Linked DNA regions of Homo sapiens. The protein of the gene in region 3 interacts with the protein of the main gene of each other region in a biochemical or structural test. Each region holds a gene or a part of one and is shown on either strand. Other genes may lie near its edges.

Evidence for each region.
Region 1: of the proteins of RNF138 (region 3) and TCF7L2, one has a biochemical effect on the other in vitro, tested with the Homo sapiens proteins (one study listed by BioGRID).
Region 2: of the proteins of RNF138 (region 3) and RAD51D, one has a biochemical effect on the other in vitro, tested with the Homo sapiens proteins (one study listed by BioGRID).

The regions. Positions count from the first base shown.
Region 1 is NC_000010.11:113,163,151-113,168,198, forward strand, and holds the end of TCF7L2 (transcription factor 7-like 2), read left to right. Parts: intron 1-2,404; coding exon 2,405-2,822; 3' UTR 2,823-4,528; downstream 4,529-5,048. UniProt on the Homo sapiens protein: Participates in the Wnt signaling pathway and modulates MYC expression by binding to its promoter in a sequence-specific manner. Acts as a repressor in the absence of CTNNB1, and as activator in its presence.
Region 2 is NC_000017.11:35,109,808-35,116,923, reverse strand, and holds part of RAD51D (DNA repair protein RAD51 homolog 4), read left to right. Parts: coding exon of another isoform or gene 1-65; intron 66-7,116. UniProt on the Homo sapiens protein: Involved in the homologous recombination repair (HRR) pathway of double-stranded DNA breaks arising during DNA replication or induced by DNA-damaging agents. Bind to single-stranded DNA (ssDNA) and has DNA-dependent ATPase activity.
Region 3 is NC_000018.10:32,087,617-32,094,954, forward strand, and holds the start of RNF138 (E3 ubiquitin-protein ligase RNF138), read left to right. Parts: upstream 1-4,257; 5' UTR 4,258-4,619; intron 4,620-5,071; exon of another isoform or gene 5,072-5,083; 5' UTR 5,084-5,160; coding exon 5,161-5,270; intron 5,271-6,887; exon of another isoform or gene 6,888-6,990; intron 6,991-7,338. UniProt on the Homo sapiens protein: E3 ubiquitin-protein ligase involved in DNA damage response by promoting DNA resection and homologous recombination.

The DNA.
Region 1 (5,048 bases), on a different chromosome or scaffold from region 3:
CCCGTGTTCCAGATACCCCTCTCATTCCTATGATCTGGAAACTTCCACGTCATGAGGGTGGGAGGGGTGAGGAAGGTACCAGAATGCTCCTAGCCAATCAGGGCTTCTAGCTTGCCACACAAGGTTTCTAGTTTCATTTGACATTTGTGGACATTTTAACAAGATTCTGTTTTGAGCCCACCAAGTTGCTTTTCCCATCTTTTCACTCTGCCCTAATATAGCATGGAATGCTGCTTGGTGCTGTTCCCTTGTCTTCCTGGTTGTTCTCCCTGCTTCTTTCTTTCTCCCTTTCCTTTCCTCTCTCTGTTTTTCTCTGTTGCTTTCTCAGTTTTGCTTATGCCCTCCCCCTCCCCACCTCCTTTCCTTCTCCCATTTTTAAAATGCATGGACATCTTAGTTTTTTGAGCATGTTTTGATCTGCAGGCTAAGGTGGTTTAAAACTCTGAGAGGCTTAATTATTTATCTTGGTTTCTGGGATGGAAGCAGAACCCATAGTCTATTTACTCTCTCCCAGGGAGAAAAAGGAACCTTGCCAAATTGAGGGTGAGAGGGGGTGGTGCTTGCTCCCCTAGAGTTCCTTCTGACCCAGAAGGAACAGACAGACCCTGAGGCCACTAGCCCCCATGAATCTCAGCCTCTGGGAGGCAGGGAGGACTGAGCATGCTCCCTTACACCCCTCCCCTCCTTCCCTGCCTTCCTGCCATCTTGCTGAGTCCAAACCCCAAGCACAGAGGGGCATGATCAGACAGCTCTGGGGCACAGACTGAGAGGAGGAACTCAGCACACCCTTCCTTTCCAAGGCCAGTGACATTGTCTGACAGTGGTTGCCTTCAAGCAGGCAGCATCTTGGTTGCTTCCAGCGGCAGAAAGCTGGCCAGTGCTTACACACGTGTTTCCAGTTGGAGTGTTATCAGCCATGGTTCTGACAATATTCTAGGGTCCTTAGATGAGCACACTTCCTGTATCTGCATTATTTTTATAGCATTAGTGGGGTTGATCCCCAGGCTCACCTTTCCTTACCAAATACCATCCCATCAGACTGGGATTAATGGGAGGAGAAGCTTTGAAGTCACATGCTCAATTTCTTGAGTTGATTTTCCCCGACCTCATCCTTTGATGCTAAGCAAGAAGGGCTCTGAAATTCTCATTCCTATTTCTTACATGAATGAGTAGTGAAGAGGGGAGATGCTGGTTTTGGTGCAGGGCAAAATTAGTCTTTCTGGTTTAAACACGAATCACGATAACCCAAACCCAGGAAGGTCCATGCTGCGATTCCCTGGCACTTCTTCTTTGTAGTCACTTCGGTGACCGGCTTGTGCTGCACCCTCCATTGACTAGCCTTGGCATATTGACAAGAGCAGGATGCCCCTCCATCCATCCCATCCTCACCATCTCTCCTTCCAACCTTCTCACTACGGGGTGGGGGAGGGGAAAGCCCCAAATCTTAAAAAAAAAAAAAAAATCAAGTTTGAATCTTAATTTAATCCACAACCTGCAGGCCATACAACCAGTTATTCTCGTTCCTTTGAATCATTTTCTGTTTTTCTTATTCTTCCCCCTCCCCCACCTTTGTTTATCCTCTTCTACCTGTTTTTGGTGGTTTCTTTTTTTTGTTTCGTTTTTTGTTTTTTGTTTTTGTTTTAAGTTTATTTTGTTTTATTTTTGTTTCCCTTCCTCCCTTCTCACCTGATTCTGACCTCTCTTGATTTGGTGTGGTTCTTAACAGACAAGCCCGAAAGCTCTCTGGGCGCCAGCAGCCTCATGGTGGTGGTGTGTTAAAACCTTTAAGCCTCTTGCTAGCGCTGCCTTCAGCTATGTGGGCTCAACAGTGAGCATTTTGAGAGTTTCATATTGATACGAGGCGGCTGGGGAAGGAGCTCTGTCTTTCTCTTTTAAACACACACACACTCACACTCACACACTCACACACACACATCACTGGGGGATGGGGGTGGTAGTGGTGGGAATGGGAGTGAAGGGCCGAGGAAACTTGATGGGAAAGTGAGGGACTGTCTAAGCCAAAAGAGCTTTTCAGTTCTTCTCAATTTGGACAAAGCCACTTTTTGGCAAATAGATGCCACCATCTGCAGGTGGCCGCCTCCATGCTGCTCTCGTATATAATTTGGGCATGGTGGGGCATGGGTGTTTAGTAGGGGTTGGGGGAAGCAAGTAGAGAGTTCAGACTCTTAAATAAGTTGTTTGCCAGAGCAGGCTTAGATCTGGGCACTGTGAAGTAAGCGACCCACCCTGGGGGGGCGCCACTGTAATTGTCCTCGGACCACTGGGCGTGCCACCTCTGTGGGACATCCCTTAGGTGACCTCAGCTTGGGTGTGAGCATTAGGTAACTCTCTCCCTTGGCATCTGTGCCCTCTATTCACAGATAACTCTCTCCCCTGTTTCTAGGAGAAAAAAAAAGTGCGTTCGCTACATACAAGGTGAAGGCAGCTGCCTCAGCCCACCCTCTTCAGATGGAAGCTTACTAGATTCGCCTCCCCCCTCCCCGAACCTGCTAGGCTCCCCTCCCCGAGACGCCAAGTCACAGACTGAGCAGACCCAGCCTCTGTCGCTGTCCCTGAAGCCCGACCCCCTGGCCCACCTGTCCATGATGCCTCCGCCACCCGCCCTCCTGCTCGCTGAGGCCACCCACAAGGCCTCCGCCCTCTGTCCCAACGGGGCCCTGGACCTGCCCCCAGCCGCTTTGCAGCCTGCCGCCCCCTCCTCATCAATTGCACAGCCGTCGACTTCTTCCTTACATTCCCACAGCTCCCTGGCCGGGACCCAGCCCCAGCCGCTGTCGCTCGTCACCAAGTCTTTAGAATAGCTTTAGCGTCGTGAACCCCGCTGCTTTGTTTATGGTTTTGTTTCACTTTTCTTAATTTGCCCCCCACCCCCACCTTGAAAGGTTTTGTTTTGTACTCTCTTAATTTTGTGCCATGTGGCTACATTAGTTGATGTTTATCGAGTTCATTGGTCAATATTTGACCCATTCTTATTTCAATTTCTCCTTTTAAATATGTAGATGAGAGAAGAACCTCATGATTCTACCAAAATTTTTATCAACAGCTGTTTAAAGTCTTTGTAGCGTTTAAAAAATATATATATATACATAACTGTTATGTAGTTCGGATAGCTTAGTTTTAAAAGACTGATTAAAAAACAAAAAGAAAAAAAAAGCAATTTTGAAGCAGCCCTCCAGAAGGAGTTGGTTCTGTATTATTTGTATTAAATACGAGCTTGCGAACCAATCATTTTACATCTGGTTTTTAAACCGTAAGGGCACCATGAATGCAGTGCCGTTACTTTTTTTTTTTTTTTCTGTGTGAAACAACTCTTATTGTGATGTTACTTGTTATTGTTTAAATGTACAGAAACAAAGGGTAAAAATGTGTTAATATACCTTGTTCCATGGTGTTGTTCTTTTGGGGGGAGGGGACGCTACTCAACACTTAATAGAATCACAACGCTGTTGGGCCAGTAGTATTTATTGCTTTAGAGATTGCTTGTCGTACCTGTATGTCGTCCCTTTTTAAATATGTTTTCCTTTTTCTTGAAACTGTATAAAGTTTTTTTCCCCCTTAGCATAAGCATCTTATATATAACAACTCATTTGTACAAGGTTTTTAAGTTTATATATAAAATGTGTATATATATTTTTGTTTCCCCTTTTTGACTTTTTTTTTTCTGTATGAAACCCAGATGTCACCAAATGGACATTAATAGTTGCATTAAGGATCAGTAGCATTAACAAAAGTTGCTTTAAAAGCCATTATGTAAAACAAGACTTGAAAATGAGTGAGGGAATTTTAGCGACACTGTCTGAGCAGCAGTGGGAACCATCTTCGTTTCCCCTTTGAACTCCCAGTGGGATGCCCTACCCTGCGCCCTTAGGACCCGGACTGACCGTGTACAAAACTTTACGTGCCAAAATTCTCAGTGAATTTAGCTTTCTCCCTCTTTTTGATGCTGTAATTTTTGTTCATCATGTTTTGCTGTGATGTTACATAGGTAGATTTGTATGTAGTTTTAATGTCACCTATAACAAAATGTGTTTGGTAGCAGATTGTCCAGAAAGCATTTTAAATGAAGAGGTATAAACCCTTAAGGGCCAAAATTCTGTATATTAGATTACTCTTAAACGAAAAACCAGCTGCCGCTTTTATGTACACATATTACATACGAGTAGGCAGCAGACTTTAAAAATAAAAAAAACCTAGGCATGTTGATGTTGCAAAATGCTGTATAAAGCTGAAACCTGTTCATTCAGTGCCATTGTAGTTGACATGAAGCGATTGTAAAACTGTCTCCGATTTTTCTCTGGTTTATTAAAATGCTAACTATAACATTTTTTGTGAATACTTTGAATGTTTCCTAACAGTTGTGATGTTACTGTTCCGTTTTATGCTCTTATTCCAAGTTCATTTTTAATGGTTTGGAAGCCATTTTTGTAATGAATAAATGTTCATGCTGTACAGTATCTGTAGCATGCCGTTCTGGATTAATAAAAGCAACTTAGTATGTGCAGATAAAGGCTGGTCACTTGTTTCTGTGATTTGGATTTTTATCTCTAGGGAAACTGGACCTACCGTAATCAAGAAAAACATATTCCCACGTTGGAACTTGACCATACAGTTAGTGTGTAGGTGATGACTTAGATACCAGAACGTGGTCTTGGACTCTTTTGAGGGGTTGATCCCCTCCCCTCCATCCTCGTGGCCCATTTGGTGTATCTGGTTTGCATAATGTGTCATTTGCAATGGAGATGATCAGTATCAAAGGGGATCCCTGGTGTGTGTCTTCTGTAGTATTTCACCGTGCCATTCCCAGTAGTTTGTTGCTGAAAGCAAAGCACAGTTACAGAGCAAATGTCACTTTTTTGGGGGCTATAAACCAGTTTCTCTGAAATATCCTACTCATCCTCTCACAGTAGCAAGCAGAAAGAATTTAATTCTGGTGAATGAGACTTAGTCCACCAAGAGTGCACTTAAGAAACCACATCCTTAGCAGTTAAGGATCATGGGTGTGAAAGCATCCTAACCTCCAAGAGTTG
Region 2 (7,116 bases), on a different chromosome or scaffold from region 3:
GGAGGAACAGATGGACTTTCGCTGAATGCTTTCGATGAACGAGGCACTGCGGTCAGCACTTCACGGTACATTATTTCATTTATTCGTCACAACCACCAATGAGCATGTTACTGTTTAAATCATCATTCTAGGCCGGGCGCAGTGGCTCACGCCTGTGATCACAGCACTTTGGGAGGCTGAGGTGGGCGGATCATGAGGTCAGGAAATCGAGACTGTCCTGGCTAACACGGTAAAACCCCGTCTCTACTAAAAGTACAAAATATTAGCTGGGCGTGGTGGCGGGCGCCTGTAGTCCCAGCTACTCGGAAGGCTGAGGCAGGAGAATAGCATGAACCCGGGAAGCGGAGCTTGCAGTGAGCGGAGATCGCACCACTGCACTCCAGCCTGGGCAACAGGGCAAGACTCCATCTCAAAAAAATAAAATAAAATAAAATAAAATAAAAATAAATCATCATTCTATAGGTGAAGAAATTGGGACTCAGGTTAAATGACTTGTTCAAGATTGTGCAGTTAGCAAACGGCAGACCAGTTATTTGAGTTCATGCTTGTCACACTCCTAAGTCTAAGAACGCGGCTCTTAACTCATCTGCCCGGCTGTCTCCCTGGAGGCGGGAGGCCATTGTGAAAGCAGGGTTATAGACAGTGGGGTAGAGGTGTGCAGGGTGGAAGGGTGGCAGAGGCCAAGCAGGGCCCTGGCAGTGCTGGCCTGGGGTATGTGAGTCCAGTCTAGAACAGTGGGAGACATGTTGAAGAGGAACTGTGACAAGACCTACTACCAGGAGGAATGTATTGTGAAGAATCAAAGCTGACTCACCAGGTTTCTAGCCTTTCTTTCTTTCTTTCTTTTTTTTTTTTGTCGGAGTTTGGAATGTATTGTGAAGAATCAAAGCTGACTCACCAGGTTTCTAGCCTTTCTTTCTTTCTTTCTTTCTTTCTTTCTTTCTTTCTTTCTTTCTTTCTTTCTTTCCTTTCTTCCTTTTCTTTCTTCCTTCCTTCCTTCCTTCCTTCCTTCCTTCCTTCCTTCCTTTCCTTCTTTCCTTCTTTCTTTCTTTTTTTTGACGGAGTTTCACTCTGTTGCCAGGCTGGAGTGCAGTGGCGTGATCTCGGCTCACTGCAACCTCCGCCTCCAGGGTTCAAGTGATTCTCCTGACTCAGCCTCCCGAGTAGCTGGGACTACAGGTGCGTGCCATCAACGCCCAGCTAATTTTTTGTATTTTTAGTAGAGATGGACTTTCGCCATGTTGGCCAGGATGGTCTCGATCTTCTGACCTCGTGATCCGCCCGCCTTGGCCTTCCAAAGTGCTGGGATTACAGGCGTGAGCTACCATGCCCAGTCTCTAGCCTTTCTTACCGTGTGCTGTGGACAGTTAATGGTGTAACTTTAAAACTTGGGAGGAGGGGAGTTCTGTAGTCAGAAGTTTGAGAAATGCCTGACTAATCCAAATTAAACAGGTTTCTCTGTTGTAGGCCGCCTCAGAACCTTTAGTGCTGAGGTGCAATGATTCCTTACAGGGTGTTATAGCATGTAACGTACTTTGGGAAAAGCTATGTTGATGAGGGAGATTGATTATTCCTTATAGGCCAGAGCTAGGTCTGTTCATCCCACAGTCCCCTCATTTTAGAATAAGACTGTCAGGAAATATGAGGCATTGAAGTGGTGTGTGAATGGATGACTGAAAGAATGGCTAAAAGGCAGTTCAGAGGGAAAGGCAGAGGATAAGTCCCAGAAATCACCTGTATTCTAGGCAGTGGTAAAACCCAGGTGTACTTCTGCTTCATGGGGCAAGACAGGGGTCTCTCCCTGTTGACATGCGGAGTTAAAGGTGATGGGGACATATTGGTAGGAAGGTTCTCTGGGCAGTCGGAGAGGCACGGAATGGAAACTCAGGTGAGAAGTTGGCTGGAAGGTGGATTTGGGAATACCTTATACAGACTGATCTCCACAGCCAAGGATGTGGTTGATTCTTGACTAGAGTCAACACCAGTGCTTCAACCCCAGCTGCACGTTAGAATCATCTGGGAAACTTGAGATATTCATGCTCTGGTCCCAACTCTATATATTCTAATTTAATTAGTCTAGGTCAGTGGTTCCCAAACTTGTGTGCCCATTGGAGTCACCTGAGGACTCTTTTAAACATTACGAAGTCCAAGTCTCCCCCAGACCAATTAATCTCATTCACTGTGAGTGGGACACAGGCATCAGTATTTTTTAATTTTTTAATTTGTTTTTTAGAGACAGGGTCTTGCTCTGTTGCCCAGGCAGGAGTGCAGTGGTGCACAATCATAGTTCACTGCAGCCTTGAACTCCTGGACTCAGGCAGTCTCCCTGCCTCAGCCTCCCAAGTAGCTGGGACTACAGGTGCTCACCACCATGCCTGGCTAATTAAAAAAAATTTTTTTTTTTTGTAGAGACAGGGGTCTTGCTGTGTTGCCAAGGCTGGTCTCAAATTCCTGGGCTCAAGCAATCCTACCTCTGTCTCCCAAAGTGTTGAGATGACAGGTATGAGCCACCATGCCTGGCCAGGCATCAGTATTTTTTTGAAGCTCCCAGGTGAATCCAATGTGCAGACAACTTTGGGTACTGCTGACATAGGCATTTTTTAAAAAACTCCCCTGATTTTATTTTATTTAATTAATTAATTTTATTTTTTTGAGACGGAATCTTGCTCTGTCGCCCAGGCTGGGGTGCAGTGGCGCGATCTCGGCTCACTGCAAGCTCCACCTCCCGGGTTCATGCCATTCTCCTGCTTCAGCCTCCCAAGTAGCTGGGACTACAGGCGCCCGCCACCACGCCCAGCTAATTTTTTGTATTTTTAGTAGAGACGGAGTTTCACCGTGTTAGCCGGGATGGTCTCGATCTCCTGACCTCGTGATCCACCCGCCTCGGCCTCCCAAAGTGCTAGGATTACAGGCGAGAGCCACTGCGTCCAGCCAACTCCCCTGATTTTAATGTGCAGGCAGGATTGAGACTAACTACTCTAGTCTAATGGTTCTGAAACTTGAGCAGGCTTCAAAATCACTTGGAGGCCTTGTTGAAACTCAAGTTTCAAGTGTGGGCTGCATTCCCAGAGTTTCTGATTCAGTAGGTCTTGGGGAGCGGAGCTGTGAATTTGCATTTCTAGCTAGTCCTTAAAGGTTGCTGATGCACCTGGTCTGGGGACCACACTGGGGTTCCTCTGATCTCAATGGGAAGAATGGAATCAGGAGTGGTAGAGGCTGGATACTTATTAAACAGAGATGGGGTGAGCACAATTATCTCAAGAAGCCACAGGGCTAGAGTGGTAACCAGAGTGTTTTGACTGGCAGGAACCTGTGGGTATAATCATGGGGAGTCCCTGGAATTAAAATGGTTGGGGGCCAGGCACGGTGGCTCATGCCTATAATCCCAGCACTTTGGGAGGCCAAGGCGAGTGGGTCACCTGAGGTCAGGAGTTTGAGACCAGCCTGGCCAACATGGCGAAACCCCATCTCTACTAAAAATACAAAAATTAGCCAGGCGTGGTGGTGGGTGCCTATAATCCCAGCTACTCGGGAGGCTGAGGCAGGAGAATTGTTTGAACCCGAGAGGCGGAGGTTGCAGTGAGCCGAGAGCACACCACTGCACTCCAGCCTGGTGACAGAGCGAGACTCCGTCTCAAAAAGAAAAAAAAAATGGATGGGATGCTTACTAAAGTGCTGTTCGGCATATACAGAGAGGTCATGGGAGGTCATCAAGAACCATCTCAAGGACTGGAACCTAGGAAGGTGATTGTAGGGCTAGGAAAGGTACGCATGTGATCAGGCATTGGTACAGGCCGTGGCATAGAAGAAACTTCAGCCTAGAGATAGGGCAGGGCATGGAGGGTAGGTGGTGACCTGTTTCATGTGGTTGAGGGAGAGAACCTGGTTTAGGAATTGGCATGTCATGAGGTTTATCCCAAGTCTTTCACAGCCAGTGTTGATGATACAGAAGCGAAATAAAAGTGATAGCACCTTTCTGTTACTCATTTTTCTGGAATGATTATTGGGTGCCTCCTGTGTTTCAGGCACTGTGCTAGTGCTGGGGATGCGACAGGGATCGGACCCAGTCCTTGCCCCATGGTGCTCTCAGCTAGATGAGCAAGACAAACAAAAACAAGCAAATAACAAATAATTACAAACTCCTAGGACTAGTGAGGATACAAGACCAACACATACAAATCAACTGCATTTCTCTATACTCACAGTGAACATGTCAAAACTAAAATAAAAAACACTACCATTTATTGGCCGGCCGCAGTGGCTCATGCCTGTAATCCCAGCACTTTGGAAGGTCGAGGCAAGTGGATCACCTGAGGTCAGGAGTTCGAGACCAGCCTGGCCAATATGATGAAACCTGGTCTTTACTAGAAATACAAAAATTAGCTGGGCGTGGTGGTGGGTGGTTGTAATCCCAGCCACTTGGGAGGCTGAGACGGGAGAATCACTTGAATCTGGGAGATGCAGGTTACAGTGAGCGGATATTGTGCCACTGCACTTCAACCTGGGTGACAGAGTGAAACTGTCTCAAAAAAACAAAACAAACAAAATGGCTGGGCGTGGTGGTTCACGCCTGTAATCCCAGCACTTTGGGAGGCTGAGGTGGGCAGATCACAAGGTCAGGAGATCGAGACCATCCTGGCTAACACAGAGAAACCCCATCTCTACTGAAAATACAAAAATTAGCTGGGCGTGGCAGTGTGTGCCTGTAGTCCCAGCTGCTGGGGAGGCTGAGGCACGAGAATGACGTGAACCTGGGAGGCAGAGCTTGCAGTGAGCCAAGATTGCGCCACTGCACTCCAGCCTGGGCGACAGAGCGAGACTCCGTCTCAAAAAAACAAGCAAATAAACAAACAAACAAAAACACAATGCCATTTATAGTTGTTTCAGAGAAATGAAATACTTGGGTATAAGTCTAACAAAGCATGTGTAGAATCTGTATGCTGAAAATTTTTAAATTGTTGATGAAAGAGATCAAAGATGACTCGGATAAATGGATGACATGTACTTTGTTCATGGATTGGGAGACTGAACATAATGAAGATTTCAATTGTCCCCAAGTTGATCTGTAATTTAACGCAGTTCCTATTAAAATCCCAGCAAGTTTTTTTTTTCTATAGACATAGACAAGCTTATTCTAATAATTACGGGAAGACCAGTTTTACCTAGATTAGCTAAAACAATTTGGAAAAAGGATAGCTGGAGGAATCAGTCTACCCAGGGTTAAGACTTGCTATATAGCTACATAATTAAGCCTAGTGTGGTATTGACCAAGGGACAGATGGACACAGATCAGTGGAACAGAATAGATAACCCAGAAATAGACCTCCACAAGTATACACAACTAATTTTTTTTTTTTTGAGACAGAGTCTTGCTCTGTCACCCAGGATGGAGGGTACTGCTGCTATTACAGCTCACTGCAGCCTTGACCTCCCTGGGCTCAGGCAATCCTTCCACCCCAAGCCTCCCGAGTAGCTGGGACTACAGGTGTGGGACACCATGCCTGGTTATTTGTATTTGTATTTTTTTTTTTTTAGACGGAGTTTCTCTCTCTCTCTTTTTTTTTTTTTTGAGATGGAGTTTCGCTCTTGTTGCCTGACCTGGAGTGCAATGGCGTGATCTCGGCTCACCGCAACCTCCGCCTCCCGGGTTCAAGCGATTCTCCTACAGGCACATGCCACCAGGCCTGGCTAACTTTTTTGTATTTTTAGTAGAGACGGGGTTTCTCCATGTTGGTCAGGCTGGTCTCGAACTCCTGACCTCAGGTGATCCACCCGCCTCGGACTCCCAAAGTGCTGGGATTACAGGTGTGAGTCAACGCGCCTGGCCTGAGTTTCTCTCTTTTTGCCCAGACTGGAGTGCAATGGCGTGATCTCGGCTCACTGCAACCCCCGCCTCCCGGGTTTGATTCACCTGCCTCGACCTCACGGGTAGCTGGGATTACAGGTGCATGCCACCATGCCCAGCTAATCTTGTATTTTTAATAGAGATGGGGTTTCACCATGTTGGCCAGGCTGGTCTTGAACTCCTGACCTCAGGTGATCGCCCGCCTCGGCCTCCCAAAGTGCTGGGATCACTGGCGTGAGCCACCGCGCCCAGCCTGTTTGTATTTTTTTTATAGAGACAGGGTTTCATTATGTTGCCCAGGCTGGCCTCAAACTCCTGGGCTCAAGCAATGCTCCCGCCTCAGCCTCCCAAAATGCTGGGATTACACACAATTGATTTTTGACAAGGGTACAGAAACAATGTGTTGGAGGAAAGACAGCCTTTGAACAAAGGGCGCTGGAGCTATTGGACATCATAGGCTAAAAATATACAATAATCAACCTAAACCTTATACCTTATACAAAAATTGAAAATGGATCATAGACTTAAATGTAAAACCAAATTGTCTAATTTTTAGAACAAAACAGGAGAAAATCTAGGCAAAGAGTTCTTAGATTTGATGCCAAAAGTATGATCCATGAAAAAATTTTTGATTAATGGGGCCTAATCAAAATTTAAAACTTTTGCTGTGCAAAACAGAATGAAAAGAGAAGTACAGAATGGGAAACATAGTTACAAGCCATGTATTCAACAAAGGACTTGTATCTAGAATGAAGAAAGAATTCTTAAAACCCAACAATAAAAAATCAAACAATTCAATTAGAAAATGGGCAAGGGCTGGCTCACACCTGTAATCCCAGCACTTTGAGAGGCTGAGGTGGTCAGATTGCTTGAGCCCAGGAGTTCAAAACTGGCCTGGGCAACGTGGCAAAAACCCTGTCTCTACCAAAAAAATACAAAAATTAGCTGGGTGTGGTGGCACATGCCTGTAGTCCCAGCTACTTGGGGGAGCTGATGTGGGAGGATCACCTCAGCCTGGGAGGTCAAGATTGCAGTGAGCTGTGACCATGCCACTGAATTCTAGCCTGGGTGACACAGTGAGACGTGAGACCCTATCTCAAAAAAAAAAAAAAAGCCAGGCGTGGTGGCTTACGCCTGTAATCCCAGCACTTCGGGAGGCCAAGGCAGGTTGATCACCTGAGGTCGGGAGTTTGAGATCAGCCTGACCAACATGAAGAAACCTCGTCTCTACTAAAAATACAAAATTAGCCAGGCGTGGTGGTGCATGCCTG
Region 3 (7,338 bases):
TATGGTTAGAGTTTTCCCTACACAATTGGTTATTGTGGAGGTTAAAGAACTCCATCATGGATGTTAACATGCTAGGTTGACTTCTGATTAACCCCAGTTCCAGGAATGCCCCTAAGAGTTCTTCTTTATGATTCCTTGTGTAAAAAGAGCATGGTCTTAATCATAAATCCTGCCCTTAAGCAAATTATAGGCTGTAATGCACATAGTATTCTTGTCTTTCCCTCAGGGGTGAACTTTAATTTTCCTGCACATTATGTATACCCTTTCCTTATGGTCTGCAGGATAACAATACGAAGATCCACCTGTCTTGCTGCTGCCCAAGACCACACTTCCATCCACAAGTTCCCCAGTAAATCACCTGCTACCAGCAAACTGGATTTGTTTGCCTCTTCTTTGGATTTTTGGCTTCTTCTGCATTTGAGAGTCACTTTGCATATATAGCCCTTTCATGGAACAGTTGTGTATGTACATAGTCAAGAGTAATATTTAGCTAATATTTGCTAAAATAAAAATATTTAGCAACTGGAACCAAATTGGCACTGGTCATTCAGGACAGACTACTCACCAGTCAGGATGGACAAGGCTGAAAAAGACTAGGAAAATGGTACTGGTACAAACCAGCTGAGTGTCAACACTGCACATGGTAGCAATTTACAAAGATACCAAAGGGTAGAGAGTGAAACATGAGCCTCTCTCCTGTTCCATCCTCCAGCTTCCCAGTTCACTTCTTCAAAGGCAATCACTTTTACCAGCAAAACAGGATTTTGAAGGTTTGTAGTAAGATAAAGCCAGGCCTTGTCAAGAAATCAGTATTCTAAATTATTTTATTTTTCTCTTTTGCATATCAAGATCCATCGAACTTGACTGGAGAGTTTTATTTACTTATTTTGATTTTTTATTTTTTGAGACAGAGTCCCGCTCTGTCACCCAGGCTGGAGAGCAGTGGTGCCATCTCAGCTCACTGCAACTTCTGCCTCCTGGGTTCAAGCCACTCTTCTGCCTCAGCCTCTGGAGTAGCTGGGACTATAGGCATGCATACCATGCCCGGTTAATTTTTGTATTTTAGTAGAGACAGGTTTCGCCATGTTGTCCAGGCTGGTCACGAACTCCTGACCTCAAGTGATCTGCCTGCCTCGGCCTCCCAGAGTGCTGGGATTAGGAGCATGATCCACCACGCCTGGTCTTGACTGGAGAGTTTTAGAGCACCCAATCAGCAAGAAGTGGCAAGGGGAAAAGTCCATTCCTTCTAATCCAAGAGACTGTAGGAGAAGAAACAAAGTAGGGGCTTCATTCTGGGGGGGAAAGGTGGTTTAGATGGGTTGGAGTGTGTGCCCTGGAAGCACATGGCCTTACAGGCTGTTCAGAACCAGAGGGAGAACCACAAAGGATGTCATAGACAGTAGTTGTGTTGAGAGCCAGAGAGCCTGCTAAGGAGCCTGCCATGTTGAGGGTTAAGGAATTGGAAGGTGATCGTGGCAGGAATCAGAAGGTTTTACAGTGTTGGTGAAGCTAGGACATATCTCAGGGCCTTGGCCCAGCTGAGAGACAGGTCCGAGCAATCTTCATCAGCAAGTTTCAGCAAGAGAACACCCAGGACACATTACATCTCAAGGAGCAGAGAAAATTAGTCTGGCTAAAGAAAATCCGGCAAAAATGCAAAAGAGAACTTGCAGATTTCAGGAGCCAGATTCCCCTATAGTGCCTTGAGTTCATGTCAGCTACCCATCATCCTCCCTTCCCTTCTCCCAAATGCCATTCTGAGGGAAGCCCACTGAGAGGGACTGACTGGTTTAACCCAAACTTAAAGGAACTGTTTAAATTATTGCAGCACAGTTTACCAAATCGGTCTACATCTAGGGTTTTCCCTTCTAATGACCAAAGGCTGAGGACATTTTATTTACGCAGCTGAATGTATTTTGAGTAAATCTATGACATTCTTATAAAAATATCAAGTAGCTTTTCACCAGAAATGTTGCCAAGAAAGAAGATTGTGTCATTGGTAATTGCAACTTATTTTTTTAAGCTTAACTTTCCAAGGGTATCTATATTTTTCTTATGTCCAAGTTTTTGCTGGATTTCCACATATTGCCAGCTATATGCTTACGTGTATACCGAATGACTTATTAGAATATATGGGGGAGTGATACAAATATGTTTGGATTAGACATAAGTAAAGCTGCCGTTGCAGAGAAAGAATGAAGCAAATAAAATTAGGGTCACAAAATTAATGTTATGGTTAGATATTCCCAATGAATAATGGGAAACACTATTATACAGAAAATACACCTTACTTCCTAAATGGTCAGAATGAATGAAATGAGTGGAATTATCAAAAAAGTAAAATGTAGGCCAGGCACAGTGGCTCAGGCCTGTAATTCCAGCACTTTGGGAGGCCAAGGTGGGCGGATCGCTGGAGGCCAGGAGTTCGAGACTAGCCTGGCCAACATGGCAAAACCCTGTCTCTACTAAAAATGCAAAAATTAGTTTGGCATGGTGGTGCATGCCTGTAATCTCAGCTACTTGGGAGGCTGAGGCAGGAGAGTTGCTTCAACCTGGAAGGCGCAGGTTGAAGTGAGCTGAGATCATTCCACTGCACCCCAGCCTGGGTGACAGAGTGAGATTCTGTCTCAAAAGAAAAAAGAAAAAAAGTGAGTTTTCTTCTCTGGGCTGTTAAAAATTTGAACTCAAAGAACCATTTTATAAGTGAATGTGAAAAGCACCTGAACTACTGCTATTAGCTGCCCCTCTCGTCACGTGCTCTTCCTCCTTCCAGGAAATCTGAAGCTAGTATTAGCTTTCTTGTCTTGCTTCCACTGCGCTTGCTGCTAAGGAGGAAAAGCAACAAAAATACAAAATATAGTTTGGTAGAGGGAATTAGCTATTCATTGGACAAATTATTATTATTCTAGGAATCAATGCTTTTGAGATGTACATTAAAACCCATTTCCTCCATAAAGTTTTCTGTTAACTCTATATATTTCTAATCATTCCATTTCCTATCCTCATTATAGCCATCGTTTAATGCAAAATTTAATACTTTGGCAAATACCATTTTTTCTCTCTCATTCTGATAGATATGTAATAATGTAAACAGGTTGAGAGCAAAGTTCATGACATCTGCATAACACCTAACAATGCCAATGTCAACATAGACAATAAATGGCAGAATTGATTTAAATAGTCCCTTAAATGGCTTCTGTTTATTCATTTAGACCATGGGGGAGGGTTTTAACAAAGGATGGTAATAAAACCTTTCTTTTCTCTGAAGCTAATTGTAGATGCTGTATAATGTTCCAGATTTTCCTTAGCTTCTTTCACGTCATTGTGGATCCCATCTTATCGATTTATCCTTTTTTTGTTCTTCTTTTTTTTTGAGAGTCTCACTCTGTCGCCAGGGCTGGAGTGCAGCGGCGCGATCGCGGCTCACTGCAACCTCTGCCTCCCGGGTACAAGCGATTCTCGTGCCTCAGCCTCCCGAGTACCTGGGATTACAGGCTCCCACCACCATGTCCGGTTAATTTTTGTATTTTTAGTAGAGATGGGATTTCATCACGTTGGCCAGGCTGGTCTTGAACTCCTGACCTCAAGTGATCCAACCGCCTTCGCTTACCAAAGGGCTGGGATTACAGGTGTGAGCCACCGCGCCCGGCCTTTTTTCTTTCTTTTTTTTTTTTTTTTTTGAGACGGAATCTCACTCTGTTACGCAGGTTGGACCATCTTATAGATTATCAATTGTACAGATAATTGCACTCCGGCCTGGGAGACAGAGTGAGTACCTGTCTCAAAAAATAAAATAAAATAAAATAAAATTAAAAAAAACACTTAAATTAGTGAATAACCTTGGTGAAAAGCCACGTCCATGCTTCTACGGCATTTCTCTTCAAAGCTAAAAAAAAAAAGAAAAAATCAAAAATCAACCCAAAGGTGTAGTAGAAGACTGCATCTGCGACCGTATTTAAGCATCGGTCATGCTGTTAAAGGAGAAAGTGGACATCCTCTCAAGGAAACTTTAATCCTGCCCCCAAAGGATTAAAATCCCGTAACAAATATTTGTTTATAACACATCTTGACAAGATCAAAACATTCTGGTAGGGCAAATAGTAAAGACTAAATCTTGAACATTGACGAAAACTTCCTGAAAGGCCCAATGTATTTGACAGGAGAGGTAACTGGGGTCCCGGGCCTAGCGAGGCGGGGCGGGGAGGCGCAGGTGTCACCGCGGGCGCCCAGCTGCTTACGTCACAACCCGCGGAAGGCGCCGTGCGCCGGTTGCTATACAGGCCGCACTTCACACCCCGTGCCTCCCCGCCTCTCCTGGCTCCTCCGCCCAGATCCCCGGCGCTCCCGCGTTCGGTGACGGCCGGGTAGGCTGTAGGCAGCGCAATGCCAAGACAGAGCTGCTGGCGGCGGCGGGCGAATCTCCCTGCACCATGAGCCTCGGCTCCGGCCCCGTTAGGGGCCGATAAGCACAGCGCACGCCGCCCTCCATTTGCCCCGGGGCCTCGGCTGCGAAGATAGCGGCGGCCGGACAGGAAGCTCGAGGAAAGCGCTGGGCCGGGTCTCTACGAACACGTGAAGGAAAAGCAGCTCCGTCCACAACGCCGCTTCGGGGCTCCTAGGTGAGAGTCTCCCCGGCGGAAGCGTGGAGGGGCCGGGGTGCCGGGAAGCGGGGCGGGGAGGAAGCCGCGGACACGGGCTGGGCACTCGGGGCTCGGGGTCGGGGTGAGTAGAGGCGGAAAAGCAGTGAAAAGGGAGGCCTTGGGCGAAGACGGGGGCTGAGGGCGGGGCGCGAGCCCGCGCCTGGAGCCCGGTGAGGGCGTGGCCTAGAGCGTGAGGCCGCGTCCTGGGGCGGGGTGAGGGGCGAGCGGGGCGGGCCCACGGCATGCTGCGAGCCCAGCCTCCCGCCAAGCACCGTCCCCCATCCAGCCCCCTGTGGGAGGAGCCGTGGGAGGGGTCGCCTCTTGCCCGGCGCGTGCGGCAGTAGCGTCTCTGCGTTCGGCCCCGCCCTACCCAGGGCCCCGCCCCCTTCCTGGCGCGCGCTGTATCCTGATGCGATCCCCCTCCCCCCTCCGGGTTCATGTAGGGAGTCGGGCCCCGGGCCGCCACCGTCACCTCGGCCGCTGCCGCTGTCGCCATCGCCTTGTTTCCCCATCCCCCGCCATGGCCGAGGACCTCTCTGCGGCCACGTCCTACACCGAAGATGATTTCTACTGCCCCGTCTGTCAGGAGGTGCTCAAAACGCCCGTGCGGACCACGGCCTGTCAGCACGTGTGAGTAGACGCCCCCTCCCCCTCGCGGAGCCGGGTTGTCGCTTAGGCCCGGCCTCCGGCCCGGGACCCCGGGCTGCCGCCTGGCGGGAACCGAGCCCGCCGCGGCCTGCCCGAGCGTCGCTGCCCCGCGAGGTCCCGTTCCCCGCCCCTCAGAGTCCCGGGGCGGCCTTTTCCTCAGCCTCGGGGCCCGCTCCCCGCGTCCAGCCCCCTCAGCCCAAGCTCCCGCTCTCCCGCTCTCCCGCTCTCCCGCTCTCCCGCTCTCCCTGGCTTTCGCGCCCCCGGGGCAGTGGCCAGGCCGTTCCCTGCGGCGTCTTCAGGCCCCGGAGGCCCCTGTCGTCTCCGCCAGGCCCGGGAGGAATTGCAGGGATCTTGGAGCCTTTTTGTTTCTTAGCAACCCGGGTGAAGGCTGGGGTGTCGAGTGTCAAAAGCGGCCGGCGGTGCTCGCGCGGGCCCGCTCGCCCCGCGACCTGCCCTGCTTTCAAGTTTCCTCTTTCAGAACCTTGGTCCGTCCCCTCGGTCCAAGAGCTCTTCTGTAACTTCCCCTCAACCCTGCTTCACAGAACACCCTCGAGAGCGTTTTGTTTCGTTTCCAGTCCACTATGTGTTAGAGGGATCTAGAATGAGTTTTCTTCTCTGGTCTCTTAAAACTGACAGGATTTTCGGGCATTGAAATGAGCGTTCCCCTTTGTTTTACCTTTCTGCTTACTTATTACTTGATTAATACAAGGGTGGAGAGGAGAAAGGAAGACTTCTGTTATGAGGAATGAGCCGAAATTGAGATGCTACCCAGGGTGGGGGAGAACACAAAGGGGTTGGGTGAGATAACGCATGCGTTTGATTGGCAGGCATATTTACAAGAACTTTGATAAAATTTTATGGACAGCTAGGGTGTGAGTAAGGGTTGGAAAGAGCCCTTGTTGAGAAGGTGTATAGCCCTTCTGACAGACCTGACTGATGATCAGAGTCCCCGGGGAACTTTTTAAGTAAACATACCAATTCCCAGGCTCCATTTCAAACTTAACAAAAGAATGTTCGGGCAGGTGGGGCCTGGAAATCTTTATTTATTTATTTATTGTATTTTTTTTTAGTAGAGACGGGGTTTCACCGTGTTAGCAAGGATGGTCTCGATCTCCTGACCTCGTGATCCTCCCGCCTCGGCCTCCCAAAGTGCTGGGATTAAAGGCGTGAGCCACCGCGCCCCGCCCGGAAATCTTTATTTTTAAAAAACACACTCAGGCTTGAAAGTTACGTGTGTTTGCAAACAACTGAAAAGAATTGACCAACCTTCTAAATGTATTTCATTCTCCTTCGACTTTTTTTTCTTTTTTTTTTGAGGTGAGGTTCTATAATTTTGTAAAGGATGGATTGAATTTTTGGTTCTTAATTGCAAATGCCCTTACTGTGGCTGTTTTCTTGATACCAACTCTTCTCATTTTTTCCCCAATCTTAACTGCACTGTCTACTTTATTTCTATTTTGTGCTGGTTGTGTGAGCCAAGAGTGTGTGGATTTTCATGATAGAAATTATGCCAGTTACGCTTTTGCTCTTTAAGGGAGATGAATGACATCTTGTTATTTTGTGCAACAAATGCAGATTCTTAGGGAAATGTTTTGAGGGATCCTTTTGCGGTTCATAGTGTGATGATTGAGTGTTCACAGGCATGTGTGAGATATGCCATCCTCAAACCTTGTTACAGGGTCAGCACATTACCCATCTGACATGAAAAAAAAAACGTTTGGAGGTGTCTAGGGCACAATATAGATCTTCCACCTTTAATCTAGCATAACTTGGTCCCTTTCCAATATTTAAAAAAAATTTAAGTGCTGTGTTGGCATTGGGTAGATAAAAGGGAGGGAGGAGAGCAAGGTGAGAGGAAGTTGTAATAGCTGCTAACTATATATATATATATAAAGCAGGTCTTTTTTGGATAGAATCATTCTAATTATCCTTTGGGTCATTGACCTAATGGGCCTCATTGTAGTTTTTAGCACTCCCCAAAATTCCGTGTAGATTGCTCTAGTCCGCTTCCCTTGTGGGACATTTTAAATCAAGGTTTATAATTTGATTT